2 separate regions of the Homo sapiens genome follow, and region 2 is linked to region 1. Evidence: fine-mapped expression QTL. Tissue or cell type: tibial nerve. Region 1 holds a variant in brackets; the other region holds the start of a gene. All regions are shown on one strand. Distances are between the middles of the regions.

The links. PIP is the estimated chance that this variant, and not a neighbour inherited with it, causes the effect.
Region 2: it holds the start of ANGPTL4, and the variant in region 1 is fine-mapped to the expression of ANGPTL4 in tibial nerve (GTEx, PIP 0.93).

What each region holds. Positions count from the first base shown.
Region 1 is chr19:8,393,636-8,401,814 of GRCh38, forward strand. It overlaps RAB11B (RAB11B, member RAS oncogene family), which reads left to right. Exons shown (of 5, transcript NM_004218.4): 2 at 6,228-6,423. Among named protein-coding and RNA genes, the nearest start is that of RAB11B-AS1, 7.0 kb to the left of the region's middle. RefSeq lists a silencer at 3,064-3,113. The variant C/T (reference allele first, on the strand shown) is at 5,112.
Region 2 is chr19:8,359,468-8,367,621 of GRCh38, forward strand. It overlaps ANGPTL4 (angiopoietin like 4), which reads left to right and starts at 4,688. Exons shown (of 7, transcript NM_139314.3): 1 at 4,688-5,172; 2 at 6,487-6,597; 3 at 6,735-6,852. The coding sequence starts at 4,855. RefSeq lists an enhancer at 4,305-4,354.

The sequences.
Region 1 (8,179 bases):
GCTCTGTACACCTCCCCATAGAAGAGCTGAGACAAGAGTGGCCCCCAGTGCCGGTCCCTGGGGCCTAGGATGCTTAGGACCAGCTTCCAGGGGAGGGATGGGGGCACTGCTTGGCTCCGCCAGGCTCTGCCGGAATGGGGGCACCATTCCCCTGAAGAGTCTCTCAGTCTGCCTGAGCATTAGGGTCTGGGCCCCCAGGGCCACCACACTGTCATGGGGCAGGCCAGGGCACCTAGGACTTCTCAGAGGTGCCAGTTCTTTGTTTTTGCCAACCGGGCTTGCCTGCTCTGTCAGCCAAGTGGCGTGTCTGGGGTAGGGGGGTCGCTTCCCAGCCAGTGAAGCCACCAACTTCTGTGGAAATGCTCGGAGCTGTGTCCTCAAGGGCTCTTTATTTCCCCAAGACAACAGATTGCTTGTGTCCTAGACAATGAAGTTTTCATCCCCAGCCTGCATCCTGGACCAGCCCGCCACTGCCCCGCTGGCCACCTCTCTGCATCGGGCACCCAGTGCCAGGGACTGGTTGGGCAGCTCAGCCTCTTTGCCATTCACCTGTTTTGTCACCCAGACTGGAGTGCAGTGGCTTAGTGTCAGCTCACTGCAACCTCCGCCTCCTGGGTTCAAATGATTCTCCTGCCTCAGCCTCCTGAGTAGCTGGGATTACAGGTGCCTACCACCATGCCCACCTATTTTTTGTATTTTTAGTAGAGACGGGGTTTCGCCATGTTGACAGGCTGGTCTCGAACTCCTGAGCTCAAGTGATCCACCCGCCTTGGCCTCCCAAAGTGCTGGGATTACAGGCGTGAGCCACTGCACCTGGCCTGTCATTGATCTGTTCAGTGGCCATTTGGCCTTTGCTCTGACTTGGTCACTCTGGGTTGAGTGTCCCCAGCTGTTCAGGGAGAATGATAATATTTACATCTGTCCCTGGGGCAGCCCTGAGAATGTGGACAGCTGAGGCCTGCAAAGCACTGGGGACCCAGCCTGGCCAAAGTGCTTGAGGGCAAAACTGATGGGGCTGGGTGCCATGGCTCACGCCTGGAATCCTAGTACTTTGGAAGGCCGAGGTGGGTGAATCACTTGAAGTCAGGAGTTTGAGACAGCCTGGCCAACATGGCAAAACCCCACCTCTACTAAAAATACAAAAATTATCTGGGCGTCGTGGTGCACGCCTATAATCCCGGCTACTCGGGAGGCTGAGGCAGGAGGATCTCTTGAACTCAGGAGGCGGAGAGTACAGTGAGCTGAGATTGTGTCAGTGCACTCCAGCCTGGGCGAGGGAGATTCCATCTCAATACAAACAAACAAAAACAAACAAACTGATGGGGCTGAGGAGCCACTAAGGCTGTACAGCTGGGGCAAGGCTGGAATGGTGTGAAGGTGTCGGGAATGCCTGGGCAGGGCCCGAGTTTCCTGTCTTATTTCCTGAGGACGTGAGAACTGAGCAGACCTCCCTGGCCTTGGCCAGGCTCCCGTAGCTGCCGTGGAAAGGAGGTTAAGGTTGGTGGTGTAGATGGGGGCCCTCACAGTGAGTCCATCTTGGCCCCCAGTGGCCTGGGAGCCGATTCTCATCCCTACTGGCTTGGTTGGGAGGTGCTGGGCCACACGCCTACATTCACTCCACCTCTTTCCATCTTTCTTTTTTTTTTTTTTTTTTTTGAGATGGAGTCTCGCTGTGTCGCCCAGCTTGGAGTGCAGTGGCACGATCCCGGCTCACTGCAACCTCCGCCTCCCAGGTTCAAATGATTCTCTTGCCTCAGCCTCCACCACCACACCCGGCTAATTTTTGTATTTTTCATAGAGACGGGGTTTCACCATGTTAGTCAGGTTGGTCTCAAACTCCTGACCTCAAATGATCCGCCTGCCTCGGCCTCCCCAAGTGCTGGGATTACAGGATTACAGGCATGAGCCACTGTACCCGGCCATCTTTCTGTCTTTCTCTGAAGTCCACTTGGTAGCCCTGTGCGGGGCACCCATGGTGACGTGAGAGAATGCCAGCCCCGTTGTCTTAGGTCTTTCACGCCAGGCCAAGCAGTGGTCTTTGGGGAGAGGAGAGGTCTGAGCCGAGGGGTCTTGAAGGATGAGTAGGAGTTTGCTGGCCGCCCCAGGGGGACAGGCTGCCCTATGCGGTGGGAGCTGGGGTGCCCAGAGCCTCAATGCCCACCCCATAAGGCAGAACCACGACTCCCGAGCCACGTGCTGGGGTTTGGGGTAGGACAGTGAGTGTGGCAGTGAGTTGCGAAGGAAGAACTTGGACTGTGGATGCAGAAGACCTGGGTTCAAATCCTGCCTGGCTCACTTCCCAGGCGGTGGCTCCAGACAAGTCACTTGGGGAGCACCGTTGGGAGGTGAGGGCGAGCCCACAAACATGCATAGCTTCAGGGTCCTGCTCTGCCCCGCACCCCGTTCCCCATCCAAGCCTCAGTTTCCTCATCTGTAAAAATGGGCTACAGGAGGCTTCTGCGAAGTAACGCACATCAAGAGCTTTGTTAGCACAAGCTCATCGAATATTCTCCTTGTTCTTGTTATTCTTGGCTTCCAAGCAGCCAACCAGAGCGGGTACCAGGTGGGGTTGTAGGGGCTGCCTGATCCTGCCCTCCTCACCTGTGGCCCAAGGGTGGTGACCTGGCATCCTCTAGGTATGGGGCAGGCGGCATGCGTGGGAGGCTCTGCCAGCCTTTTTGGCATTTTGTTTGTTCACTTGACAGACATTTTCTTGGGTGTTTATTGTGTGCCAAGCACTGTGCCAGGACCTGATTCCTGCCCTTGGGGCAGACTGGCAAAAGATAAATGCCACCTGACAGGTGAGAGAGTGGCAAGAGTGACGGAGGAAGAACTGGGTCCGGGAGCAGGGTAATTCGGAGAGTAGAGTTTTAGTAGCATAGCAGGGAGGGCCTTCTTGGCCAAGTGGCATTTAAGGGGCCACACGAAGGGGATGAGGGAGGGAGCCAGGTGTGTGCCTGGAGAAGAGCGTTTCTGGCAGCAGGAGCAACCCGTGCAAAGGCCCTGAGGCAGGATCGCACCTGGCGTGTTGGGGGAACAGCATGGAGGCCTGTGTGGCTGGAGCAGAGTGAGCCGGGGGGGGGGCGGGAGGGAGGAGGGGAGGGCCCTGTGGGCAGCGGGGAGGACTGTGGCTTTTCCCCTGCGGAAGGTGGGGGCCACGGAGGGTTGTCTGCAGAGGAGGGAGGGAGGTGCCCTGGCTCGGCACTCACGGGCGCTCTCTGGTGGCTGCTGCAGGAGGACAGCGTTTTGGTTGGTGATGAGCGTGAACACAGGGACCGCACAGACAATACCTTCCAGGGTCTGAGAGTCTGGAATGGAATCGCCCAGGGAGACATGGTGGGGTGCACCCCTCGTCCTCCCTTCTCTTGGATCTGTTTCGGATGTGCTGAAGGATTGATTCTGAGATGCGAGAGAAAGGAAGGAGTCGAGAATGACTCCAGGTTTCTGGCATGAGTGCCTGGTAGGACCAAGCCAAAGTTAACCAAGATAAGGAGGGTAGGTGAGCGGTGGGTGAGCAGGCTTAGGGAGTGATCGGGAGCTTGGCTCTGCTCTTCTGGGTATGAGGGGCCTGGGGCCCCTGAGGAGACATGAAGGAGACAATGGGCACGCCAGTCTGGGCTTCTAGGGAGAGAGGTAATATAGGAGTTACCAGCCCATGGCTGGTATTTACAGCCATGAGCCTGGATGGGGTCACCTGGGGACTGGGTGTGGACAGAGATGCCTGTCCTGAGGCTCCCTGAGGTTCGAAGGTAGAGTGGGAGACTGAGTGGGAGTGACTGTGAGGAGAGGAGTCGGGGTGTGGAGCCCCTGCAGGCAGGGAAGGAGGGAGAGCTGGCTGGGTGCCTGCTGCACAGGCCCGGGGGAGTGGGGGTAGCTGAGGCTGACACTGACTGTGGGGGCGAAAGCGTGCTTGGTTTGAGTTCTAGGACTGGGGGACAGGAGGTGGAGTGAGTGAGTGTAGATGATACCTTCCAGTGCCCGAGGCAGGAAGTTGGGTCAGGAGAGAATGTTTTCTAGAGGGAAAATTCCAAACGTGTAGGTACAGCCCCACAGTGTGGCCAGGGGAAGGGCAGAGGAGGGCTGCCTGGTGGGCTCCAGGGCCTGCTCCCTCAATGTAGCAGGGGTCCCGAGTGGGGCCAGCGGACCTCTGGGTCAGCCAGGGCTCAGCCTGGCTGCCAGCACCTCCCCGAGCTCAGGAGGAACAGCCATACCCATCTCTTCCCAGACAAGGAAGCCTCATCCTCAGTGGATGCCCCCTAACTCCCTGGGACCAGGGATGACCAAGCCACTGAGCCAACCCACCCTCAGGTGCCGGGGCCCAAGGCCCACACTTGGGGGTCCACGGGGCTTCTGGCTGGGGCGTCTGGTTGGCTGTATTCAAGTGCACACACACACACTGATCTTCCCCACATGGTATGTTCTGGGTCTGGGGACAGCTCACCCAGACCCCACCCCAGAGCCTGGGGCGGCTGGGCCCATAGGGACAGTGCTTCCATGGCTGGGACAGGAAACAGTTTACAAGGCAGCTCACCCCTGGCCTGACCAGCAGGCACCTGCTCTGCTCAGGGAAAGTGTTCCTGATGCTCCTTGGCCAGCATGAGACAGGCCTGCTGCACACCCCGTGTCGACTGGGCTCAGGCCCCCGTCCCTGGGTGCTGTTGCCCACAAACCCTCATCTCTGTTCTGTCCACGCTGCGCTGACTCCTTTCTGGGCCAGGGTTTGCATCTTGGCAAGCTGCTCTGCTGTGCACCCCCCTCCTGGGACAATGCATACCTGTGTTGGAGCCTTGTGAGGAGCTGTGCACACACGTGGACTGCCACACGGACTGCCCCTTGAATGAGGACTTAGCCTTGGCTGGAGCTCCCTGCAGCTCAGCAGGGGACCTGACCCTGGGGACAGGGGTGGTGGGAGGTGGCTGCAGGCTCTTTCCTCCGGGCTGCGTCCTCAGGGCACATTCCTGTTTCCCACTCAGCCATCTGTGCCGAAGCTGGATGTGGGTTTGCTGCACCAGGAGAGGTGGGGGTTGAGGTGGGAGTAGCTCCTCATGTCCTGTCACTTACATACCTGGAGCAGTGACCCTTCCCATGCCCTGACCAGAAACCACAACAAC[C/T]GTGACAGCTGCCTACTCGTGTCCCTTCCTGTGCGATGCCTGCTCTTTTCGTGGGGGGAGACAGAATCTCTGTTGCCTAGGCTGGAGTGCAGTGATTCGATCTCGGCTCACTGCAGCCTCCACCTCCTGGGCTCAAGCGATTCTCCTGCCTCAGCCTCCTGAGTAGCTGGGGCTACAGTAGCCACCACGCCCAGCTAATTATTATTATTATTATTTTTTTTTTTGAGATGGAGTCTCGCTCTGTCACCCAGGCTGGAGTACGGTGGCGTGATCTCGGCTCACTGCAAGCTCCGCCTCCCGGATTCACGCCATTCTCCTGCCTCAGCCTCCCAAGTAGCTGGGGCTACAGGCGCCCGCTACCACACCCAGCTAATTTTATTGTATTTTTAGTGGAGATGGGGTTTCACCACGTTAGCCAGGATGGTCTCGATCTCCTGACCTCGTGATCCACCCGCCTCGGCCTCCCAAAGTGCTGGGATTACAGGTGTGAGCCACCGCGCCCGGGTACTTTTTGTATTTTTTATAGAGACGGGATTTCACCATGTTGGCCAGGCTGGTCTCGAACTCCCGACCTCAAGTGATCCGCCTGGCTCATCCTCTCAAAGCATTGAGATTACAGGCGGGAGCCACCGTGCCTGGCCATGCCTGCTCTTACTTCCTCCTCCTGTGACTGCCTTCCTGTTCACACATTTGGAAAAAGTAGTCCAGAGGTGAAGTGACTTGCCCAAGGTCACCCCGCTCAGGAGCCTTCTCAAGCCGTGTCTGGCTGCCCAGCCACCAGGCTGCAGGTGGAGGCTCAGGGTTGATGGATCTCAAGCTGCTCTGCCTGCCTGGCTGCCTGGGTCCCCTTGCCCCAGCTGGGACAGCCCTGCTCTGAGGACCAGACACAGGCAGGTGTTGTGCTATCCGCAGTGGCTGTTTCTGGAAGGCAGGAGCCTGCCTTCACTTCTGCACCACTTAGCACAGTGCCTGCAGGCCCTGGGCTCCAGGCATCTCTCGACTCCTCCACACCGTTGGCAGCCGCGTTGGTGCAGCACCCAGGGAACCGGCGGGAAGGTTGTGGGGGCAGTCGTGGGTGGAGTGTGGGGATTCACAGAACCTCGCCTTCCCGCCCAGTGGTGCTCATCGGGGACTCAGGCGTGGGCAAGAGCAACCTGCTGTCGCGCTTCACCCGCAACGAGTTCAACCTGGAGAGCAAGAGCACCATCGGCGTGGAGTTCGCCACCCGCAGCATCCAGGTGGACGGCAAGACCATCAAGGCGCAGATCTGGGACACCGCTGGCCAGGAGCGCTACCGCGCCATCACCTCCGCGTGCGTGTCGGCAGCCTGGGCAGGGACGCTGAGATTCGGGGGCGTGGGCTTGCAGCGCGTGGGCTTGGAAGGATGTGTAGGAGTTGGGCAGGAGAAGGGGAGAGTGTGCTCCCAAGACCAGGGAGTGAGGCTGGAAGAACGCTTTAGCCATGCGCCGTGGGACCCTCAGGCTGACCAGCGCCCAGCCTTCGCCACACCAGGGTATCTCTGGGTACCAAGTGCAGTGAGGACCTAGCTCAGGCCACTCCGCCTTGCCGCTGCCCCTGCCCAGCCAGCATCCCAGCCTTCCTCCTCCCTCAGCTTCCCTCCTCACTGGTGCCCACACCTGGTCCCACACGCCTCCTGTCCTCCCACCTGGGCCTGGCCTCCATTCCCTGCAAAGGCTTCCCAGCCATCAGGACCCACTCAGCTGCCTTTTTCTGGACCCCTCCCAAGCCCCCCAGCCATTCCCACCACCGTCTTGAGATCCTCTGGGCTCCCTCCCATCTCCTTCATCCCTCAGGTACATCTGTCTCTCTGTCACCTCCTCTTGTTTTTTTTTTTTTGAGATGGAGTTTCACTCTTGTCGCCCAGGCTGGAGTGCGATGGCACGATCTCGGCTCACTGCAACCTCCGCCTCCTGGGTTCAAGCGATTCTCCTGCCTCAGCCTCCCAAGTAGCTGGGATTATAGGCACATGCCGCCATACCAGGCTAATTTTGTATTTTTAGTAGAGATGGGGTTTCTCCACATTGGTCAGGCTGGTCTCAAACTCCCGCCCTCAGGTGATCCACCCTCTCGGCTTCCCAAAGTGCTGAGATTACAGGTGGCGTGAGCCACCGTGCCTGGCTGTCGCCTCCTCTTTTTTGGAGACAGACAGGGTCTTGCTCTGTCGCCCAGGCTGGAGTGCAGTGCCACAATTGCAGCTCACTGCCCCCTTGACCTCCCAGGCTCAAGCGATTCTCCTGCCTCAGCCTCCTGAGTAGCTGGGGCTACAGGCCTGTGCCACCATGCCTGGCTAATTTAATTAATTAATTTATTTATTTTTTAGTTTTAGTTTTTGAGACAGAGTCTCACTCTGTCGCCCAGGCTGGAGTGCAGTGGCGCAGTCTCAGCTCACTGCAAGCTCTGCCTCCCAGGTTCACGCCATTCTCCTGCCTCAGCCTCCTGAGCAGCTGGGACTACAGGCGCCCACCACCACGCCTGGCTAATTTTTTGTATTTTTAGTAGAGATGGGGTTTCACCGCATTAGCCAGGATGGTCTCGATCTCCTGACCTCATGATCTGCCCGCCTCGGCCTCCCAAAGTGCTGGGATTACAGGCGTGAGCGACCCTGCCTGGCCTATTTATTTATTTTTTTGAGATAGAGTCTCACTCTGTCATCCAGACTGAAGTGCAGTGTCACAATCTCGGCTCACTGCAACCTCCGCCCCCCGCCCCCCAGGGTTCAAGCAATTCTCCTGCCTTAGCCTCCCGAGTAGCTGGGATTACAGGCGCCTGCCACCACGCCTGGCTAATTTTTGTATTTTTAGTAGAGATGGGGTTTCACCATCTTGGCCAGGCTGATCTTGAATTCCTGACCTCGTGATCCACCTGCCTCGGCTTCCCAAAGTGCTGGGATTACAGGCATGAGCCACGACCCCCGGCCAATTTTTGTGTTTTTCTAGTAGAGATGGGGTATCGCCATGTTGCCCAGGCTGGTCTGAAACTCCCAGCCTCAAGTGATCCACCCGCCTCAGCCTCCCAAAGTGCTGGGATTACAGGCATGAGCCACCATG
Region 2 (8,154 bases), 34 kb before region 1:
CCCTGTTGCCCAGGCTGGAGTGCAGTGGCGCAATCTCTGCTTACTGCACCCTCTGCCTCCCGGGTTCCAGCGATTCTCCTGCCCCAGCCTCCCGAGTAACTGGGATTACAGGCGCGCGCCTCCACGCCTGGCTAATTTTTACATTTTTAGTAGAGACCGGGTTTCACCATGTTGGTCAGGCTGGTCTCGAACTTCTGACCTCACGATCTGCCCACCTTGGACTCCCAAAGTGCTGGTATTACAGGCATGAGCCACCGTGCCCAGCCTGGCCCCAGCTAATTTTTTAAATTTTTTGTACAGACAGGGTCTTGCCATGTTACCCAATCTTGAACTCCTGGGCTCAAGCAGTCCTCCCACCTTGGCCTCCCAAAGTACTGGGATTACAAGCATGAGCCACCTTGCCTAGCTTAATGGCATTTACATTTGTAGTGAAATACACATAACAGGCTGGGCGCAGTGGCTCATACCTGTAATCCCAGCACTTTGGGAGGCCGAGGTAGGCGGATCACCTGAGGTCAGGAGTTAGAGACCAGCCTGGACATGGCGAAACCCCGTCTCTACTAAAATACAAAAATTAGCCAGGCGTGGTGGTGGGCACCTGTAATCCCAGCTACTCGGGAGGCTGAGGCAGGAGAATCATTTGAACCCAGGAGGTGGAAGTTGCAGTGAGCAGAGATTGCACCACTGCACTCCAGCCTTGGCGACAGAGCAAGACTCTGTCTCAAAAAAAAGAAAAAAAAAAGAAAAGAAAAGAAAAAAAAGAAAAAGAAAAAAAGAAATATACATAATATAAAATTGGTCATTTTAACAATTTTTAACTATGTTGGCCAAAGTAGCCCACGCGTTGGGATTGGAGACCCGGTCTTGCCCACCGTGATCGCCCCAGTACAGTGCCTGGCATATAGTAGGTGCTCCAGGAACAATTGATCAGGATGACTTTGTCTTTGCTGGGTAAGAGGCCACATTCTAAAGGTCAGTTTTTGGCCAGGCACAGTGACTCACACCTGTCATCCCAGCACTTTGGGAGGCCGAGGCGAGTGAATCCCTTGAGCTCAGGAGTTCAAGACCAGCCTGGGCAACACGGCAAAAATCCTGTCTCTACAAAATCTACAGAAATTAGGCAGGTCTGGTGGCACATGCCTATAGTCCCAGCTGCTTGGGAGGCTGAGGTGGGAGGATCACTTGAGCCTGGGAGTTTGAGGTTGCGGTGAGCTGTGATTGTGACACTGCACTCCAGCCTGGGTGAGTGAGACCCATCTCAGAAAAAAAAAAAAAAATACATAAAACAGGGCTGGGCGTGGTGGCTCATGCCTGTAATCCTAGCACTTTGGGAGGCTGAGGTGGTGGATAGCCTAAGCTTAGGAGTTTGAGACCAGCCTGGGCAACATGGCGAAACCCCACCCCCTCTACTAGAATACAAAAAATTAGCGGGCGTGGTGGTGGGCACCTGTAGTCCCAGCTACTCAGGAGGCTGAGGCAGGAGAATGGCGGGAACCTGGGAGGTGGAGCTTGCAGTGAGCCGAGATGAGGCCACTGCACTCCAGCCTGGGCAACAGAGCAAGACTCTGTCTCAAAAAAAAAAAAAAAAAAAAGGCTAGGCCAGGCACAGTGGCTCACACCTGTAATCCCAGCACGTTGGGAGGCCGAGACAGGTGGATCACCTGAGGTCAGGAATTTGAGACCAGCAGAGCCAACATAGTGAAACCCCGTTTGCACTAAAAATACAAAAAATTAGTCAGGTGTGGTGGTGCACACCTGTAATCCCCGCTACTCGGGAGGCTGAGGCTGGAGAATCGCTTGAACCTGGGAGGCAGAGGTTGCAGTGAGCGGAGATTGCGCCGTTGCACTCCAGCCTGGGCGACAAGAGGGAAACTCCATCTCAAAAAAATAAATAAATAAAATAAAAAATAGGCTGGGCGCGGTGGCTCATGCCTGTAATCCCAGCACTTTGGGAGGCCGAAGCGGGCGGATCACGAGGTCAGGAGATCGAGACCATCCTGGCTAACATGGTGAAACCCTGTCTCTATTAAAAATACAAAAAATTAGCTGGGCATGGTGGCAGGTGCCTGTAGTCCCAGCTACTCGGGAGGCTGAGGCAGGAGAATGGCACTAACCCGGGAGGTGGAGCTTGCAGTGAGCCGAGATTGCGCCACTGCACTCCAGCGTGGGCGACAGAGCGAGACTCCTTCTCAAAAAATAAATAAATAAATAAATAAATAAATAAATAAATAAAAAATAAAGAGCAGTTTTTAGAATAAAATCTAGAGCCAACTTGAGGCGACAGTATAGACTCTTTTGTAGATTGCTCACAGCAGGTGCCCTTAAGACCCTGGGTCTGTGATGTGTTTTGTGCTGTGGGACACATGGCTCCAAAGAAGTCCCTGAAAATCAGATCATGAAAAGGTCATCAGGTTGGGGAAGTAATTGATCAGTTCTCTCAGTTTAAGAAGGTGGGGAAGAGGAGGAGCTTGCATTCTGGGATAGCCTGGGATAGCTGTGTCCCTACTCAGAGAGAGGCTGGGGGCTTGGGGGTGGACAGGCCAGACGGTGACCATCTGAACCTACTCCTCACTGGGGTTTTCCTCCCTCCCTTTCCTGTCCACTGCTGCTGGGAGGGATTTGCTGTCCTGGCATCTGGCCCAGCTGACGGGGCCAAGTGTATGAGTGGCAGCCTGCACGTCAGCCCTTGGGTGTGCAGTTTCAGATTCCAGAGAATGAGCTGGCTTGGAGCCCTGCTGAGTCAATGCCCTTCTCCTTGCCAGTGCTCTGAGCCAACCTGCCCCGAGTTCTTCCTGGCAGGCTGGTTTTCTGTGCCAGCCTCCCCTTCCTGACAGGGTATAGGGGAATGGGTAGGGAAGAGGCAGAGGAGATCGGTGCAAGTTTGAATGAACACTTAGCCCTGTGGAATGAATGTGGTCCAGCCCTTTAGCCTCACTCAGTACTTCCTTTGTCCCAACTCTATCCCTACCCCAGGCTCAGAATGTTGGGGTATCTCCACCTGCCTGAGAACTTCAAACATACAGGGGCTGGGCTTAGAGGGCAGCAGCACCTTCGTTCAGTGCATGAGTGAATGAATGAATGAGGGAGAGAAAGAGGAAGGTCTTCCATGTCTGAAACTTTTTTTTTTTTTTTTGACACACAGTCTCACTCTGTCACCCAGGCTGGAGTGCTGTGGTGCAATCTCAGCTCACTGCAACCTCCGTCTCCTGAGTTCAAGCGATTCTCCTGACACAGTCTCCCGAGTAGCTGTAAGCACGTGCCACCACACCCGGCTAATTTTTTATTTTTAGTAGAGACGAGGTTTCACCATGTTGGCCAGGCTGATCTCGAACCCCTGACCTCAGGTGATCCGCCCCCCCCCCCCTCCCACCACCCGGCCTCCCAAAGTGCTGGGATTACAGGCGTGAGCCACCGCGCCTGGCCACAGACTTTTATTTTATTTCTTTTTTAGAGACAGGATCTCACTCTGTTGCCCAGGCTGGAGTGCAGTGGCACCATTGTGGCTCACTGCAGCCTCTACCTCCTGGGCTCAAGTGAGCCTCCCACCTCAGGCTCCCAAGTAGCTGCGACCACAGTCATGGGCGACCGCCCTGGTTCCTCCCTTCCTTGTGTCTCCTCTTTCTGTTCTCTAAGTTCCTGCTTTATTATAGGCAAAGCTCAGGACATTAAAGACCCTGGCGGTAGAGGGTAGGCTATGGGGGTGAGGCCCTGATCCAAGTCCTGCCGCTAAGGCACTCATAATTTCGGGCTCAGGGGAGAAATGGAAGTCAAAGAATCTCATAAACACAGCTGCGATGACGAACCCTTTCACGGGAAGGAACATGCGAGCCCAGAAAAGTCTCTCCTGGTCTTGGGATGGAGGTCACACGAAGCCTCCGCAAGGCAAGGACTTTTGGTGAGTTCCGGGCTCCGCTGAACTCAGCTCTTTTTCTTTTCCTTCCTTTCTTTCCTTCTTCCTTTCTTTCCCTCCTTCCTTCCTTCCTCTTTCTCTCTTTCCTTTCTCTCTCTCTTTTCTCTCTCTCTCTCCTTCTTCCCTCCCTCCCTACCTCTCTCTCTTTTCTTTTTCCGTCCTTCCTTCCTTCTTTCCTTCTTTCTCTCTCTTTTCTTTCTTTTCTTTTCTTTTCTCTTCTTTCATTTTGAGACGTACTCTGGCTCTGTCGCCCAGGCTGGAGCGCAATGGCGCCATCTCGGCGCACTGCAACCTCCACCTCCCGGGTTCAAGCGATTCTACTGCCTCAGCCTCCCGAGTAGCTGGGACTACAGGCGCGCACTACCAAGCCCGGCTAATTTTTTTTTGTATTTTTAGTAGAGACTGGGTTTCACGATGTTGGCCGGGCTGGTCTGGAAGTCTTGACCTCAAGCGTGCGCCCTCTCCGCCACTGGGTAAGGCGGGGGCGGAATAGGGGGCTTGCAATTTCACACTAGAGGCGGGCACCGTGGGGGAAAGAAGAGTCACGTCTCCCACGGTTCGTAGAGGAAGGCCTGCCTGAGCCTGGAGCGGGGGCGGGAGAGCCACAGTTTGGCATCCCCAGGGCATCCCCCAGCCCGCAGACTACCAGGCCTCCAGAGGACAGGACCCCACCCCCGGCCACAGGCCCTGCCCCCAGCACTCCCCGCACCCCGCCTCCAAGACTCCTCCGCCCACTCCGCACCCAACTTATAAAAACCGTCCTCGGGCGCGGCGGGGAGAAGCCGAGCTGAGCGGATCCTCACACGACTGTGATCCGATTCTTTCCAGCGGCTTCTGCAACCAAGCGGGTCTTACCCCCGGTCCTCCGCGTCTCCAGTCCTCGCACCTGGAACCCCAACGTCCCCGAGAGTCCCCGAATCCCCGCTCCCAGGCTACCTAAGAGGATGAGCGGTGCTCCGACGGCCGGGGCAGCCCTGATGCTCTGCGCCGCCACCGCCGTGCTACTGAGCGCTCAGGGCGGACCCGTGCAGTCCAAGTCGCCGCGCTTTGCGTCCTGGGACGAGATGAATGTCCTGGCGCACGGACTCCTGCAGCTCGGCCAGGGGCTGCGCGAACACGCGGAGCGCACCCGCAGTCAGCTGAGCGCGCTGGAGCGGCGCCTGAGCGCGTGCGGGTCCGCCTGTCAGGGAACCGAGGGGTCCACCGACCTCCCGTTAGCCCCTGAGAGCCGGGTGGACCCTGAGGTCCTTCACAGCCTGCAGGTACGTGTCCCCAGGGCTGGTTCTCCGCGCCCCTAGTGGCTCTCCTGGCTTGGAAGGGTATGGACAGGAGTGGGGCGTGGGGGCGGGGTGCGCAACTGTGGCTCCCTGGGCTTCCCTGCGTCAAGGGATGGGCTCCCCCCTTAGGAAGCCGAGGAGGGAGGTTCGCTCAAGGCCAGGAATTCAAGACCACCTAAAGCAAAATAGCGAGACCCCCGTCTCTTCTACACACACACACACACACACACAAAATAAATAAAATAAAATAAAATAAATATAAAATTAAAAAACGACCGGGCGCAGTGGCTCACGGAGCCTCCACCTGCTGTCGAGACTAGCCTGGCCAACATGGAGAAACCTCGTCTCTACTAAAAATACAAAAAATTAGCCTGGCATGGTGTGCATGCCTGTAATCCCAGCTACTTGGGAGGCTGAGGCAGGAGAATCTCTTGAACCCGGGAGGCAGAGGTTGCAGTGAGCCGAGATCGCAGCACTGCACTCCAGCCTGGGCAACAGAGTGAGACTCCTCAAAAAAATAATAGCGATAAAATAAAAATAAAGCCAGGTGCGGTGACTCACGCTTGTAGTCCCAGCACTTTGGGAGGGCGAGGCCAGTGGATCACCTGAGGTCAGGAGTTCAAGACCAGCCTGACCAACACAGTGAAACCCCGTCTCTACTAAAAATACAAAAATTAGCTGGGTGTGGTGGTGGGCGCCTGTAATCCCAGCTACTGGGGAGGCTGAGGCAGGAGAACCTCTTGAACCCGGGAGGCGGAGGTTGCAGTGAGCCGGGATCATGCCATTGCACTCCAGCCTGGGCGACAGAGCTCGACTCCATCTCAAAATAATAATAATAATAAATAAAATAAAATACAAATACAAAAATTAGCCAGGTGTGGTGGCAGCTACTTGGGAGGCTGAGACACAAGAATCACTTGAGTCTGGGAGGCAGAGGTTGCAGTGAGCCAAGATTGCGCCACTGCACTCCAACCTGGGTGACAGAGCGAGACTCTGTCTGAAAAAATAAAAAATAAGCCAGGCATAGAGCTGCATGACTGTAGTCCCAGCTACACAGGAGGCTGAAAACAGGAGGATCGCCTGACCCCAGGAGTTGGAGGCTGCAGTGAGCTGTGACAGCACCACTGCACTCCAGCCTGGGCGAGAGAACGAGACCCCGTCATTGGGAAAAAAAAGAAAAAAGAAAGACTCCCTTGCCTGGCCTCAGCGGATGGAGATTTGGAAGGATGGATGAGTGGATGAATTAAGAGGTTGGGGTAGGCAAGCTGGGTCCTCACCAAGGTTTTCACCCCTCCCCAGACACAACTCAAGGCTCAGAACAGCAGGATCCAGCAACTCTTCCACAAGGTGGCCCAGCAGCAGCGGCACCTGGAGAAGCAGCACCTGCGAATTCAGCATCTGCAAAGCCAGGTAACCCTAGGATCAAGGGAGAAAAGGTCCCTCTGATAGCTGGACCCCAGGTTGAGAGGGAGGTGGTGAGAACTGGACGTGTGGCTGGGGACGTGGGGCCAGGCAGGACCTGACACCCTCCTCCCGTCCCATCCTAGTTTGGCCTCCTGGACCACAAGCACCTAGACCATGAGGTGGCCAAGCCTGCCCGAAGAAAGAGGCTGCCCGAGATGGCCCAGCCAGTTGACCCGGCTCACAATGTCAGCCGCCTGCACCGTGAGTGTCTGCCCCTCGATGCTCTCCGGTGGCCACCCCTACCCCGCCACTTGCCATTGCTGGTCCTCTCCTTGTCAGGTCCACCTTAAGGAGAAGATGTCCTGGCCTGGAGTCCCTGAGGGCTCACCAGTCTCTGGGTCAAAGCTGATGGGAGCACCTCCTTCCTCAGCCCTGACCTGGCCCAGCCAGGCCACCCAACCCTTCTCCTCTGCAAGCCAGTGGGCTGTCCCTGAAGCCCTGCTGATCACTGATTGGAACAGAGGTGGAGAAAGAGGTCTTGAGGGACTTGAGCTGCAGGGGTGCTGGAGAAGGTAGAAATGGGGTTCGGGGTGCCATCCTGAAGGTTAGAACCTTCTAGGGGAGGGTGTCATGGAGGAGGGGGTGCCAGGTAGTAGTGTTTGTAGATTTGGGCCCTCCACAATGTCTTGGGGTATGTGGGAATTAGGGCTGGGAACCCCCAGCTCCCAGACCAGAAACACTCTTGTATCTTACAAATCCAATGCTCCAGGTCCCTGACCCCTCTTCCTCCTTCCTCTCTTGTTCTCCTCCTCCCTCCCCGCCCCCGCCGGCCCCCTCCCCACCGCAGAAAGTGGGCTTTTGCTGCCACCACAAGTTGTAGGTGCTTTATTCCCAAATCTCCGTTCATCTCGAACCACAGCATGTCCACGTGTGTCCGATGCAGACTCGCGGTTCTCTAAGTTCACGGCCCCACACGGTTTCTCTGTGGTCCTCATCCTTCCCTGCATCTGTGGCTGTCCACAGCCAACTGGGTGAAAGTTTGGATCCCCCTCTCACACCCTAGGGTCAGTGGCAGGCTTCCAGCACTGTAGACCTGAGGGTTCTCTCCTCCCCAAGCTCCCGCTCCTTCCCACCTCCGTGCTGCCCGCCCCCAACCCCGCCAGGCTAGCATCTCAGCGTGGTCAGGGTCCTGTCCACCCTCCCAAAGCCACCATCCCAGGATGAGGGGCTTCTGGAGGGTGACGGGGGAAGGCACAAGTCCTGGCTGGGAAATGCGGTGGAAGGGGGCAGGGGTTCTGTGGGTTCGGGACTCCCAGACTCTTGGCTCAGGCCCGCCAAGTAGGAGAAAGTTCAGAGCTGGGAAGGCGAACAGCTGGCATTCATGGAAGCCACACTGGTGGTTTGGCCGCGTGCCCATCCTTACTGGATGGGAGGAAAGTAGGGGAAAGGGGAGATGCCTGAGGGGCCGGAAAGCGTCTTCCTGGTCACTCTGGGCCCGCCCCCACCCCCACCGTGCAGACTCATTTCGACCTTTCCCCTACTTTTCCGGCTGGGCTGGGGGCG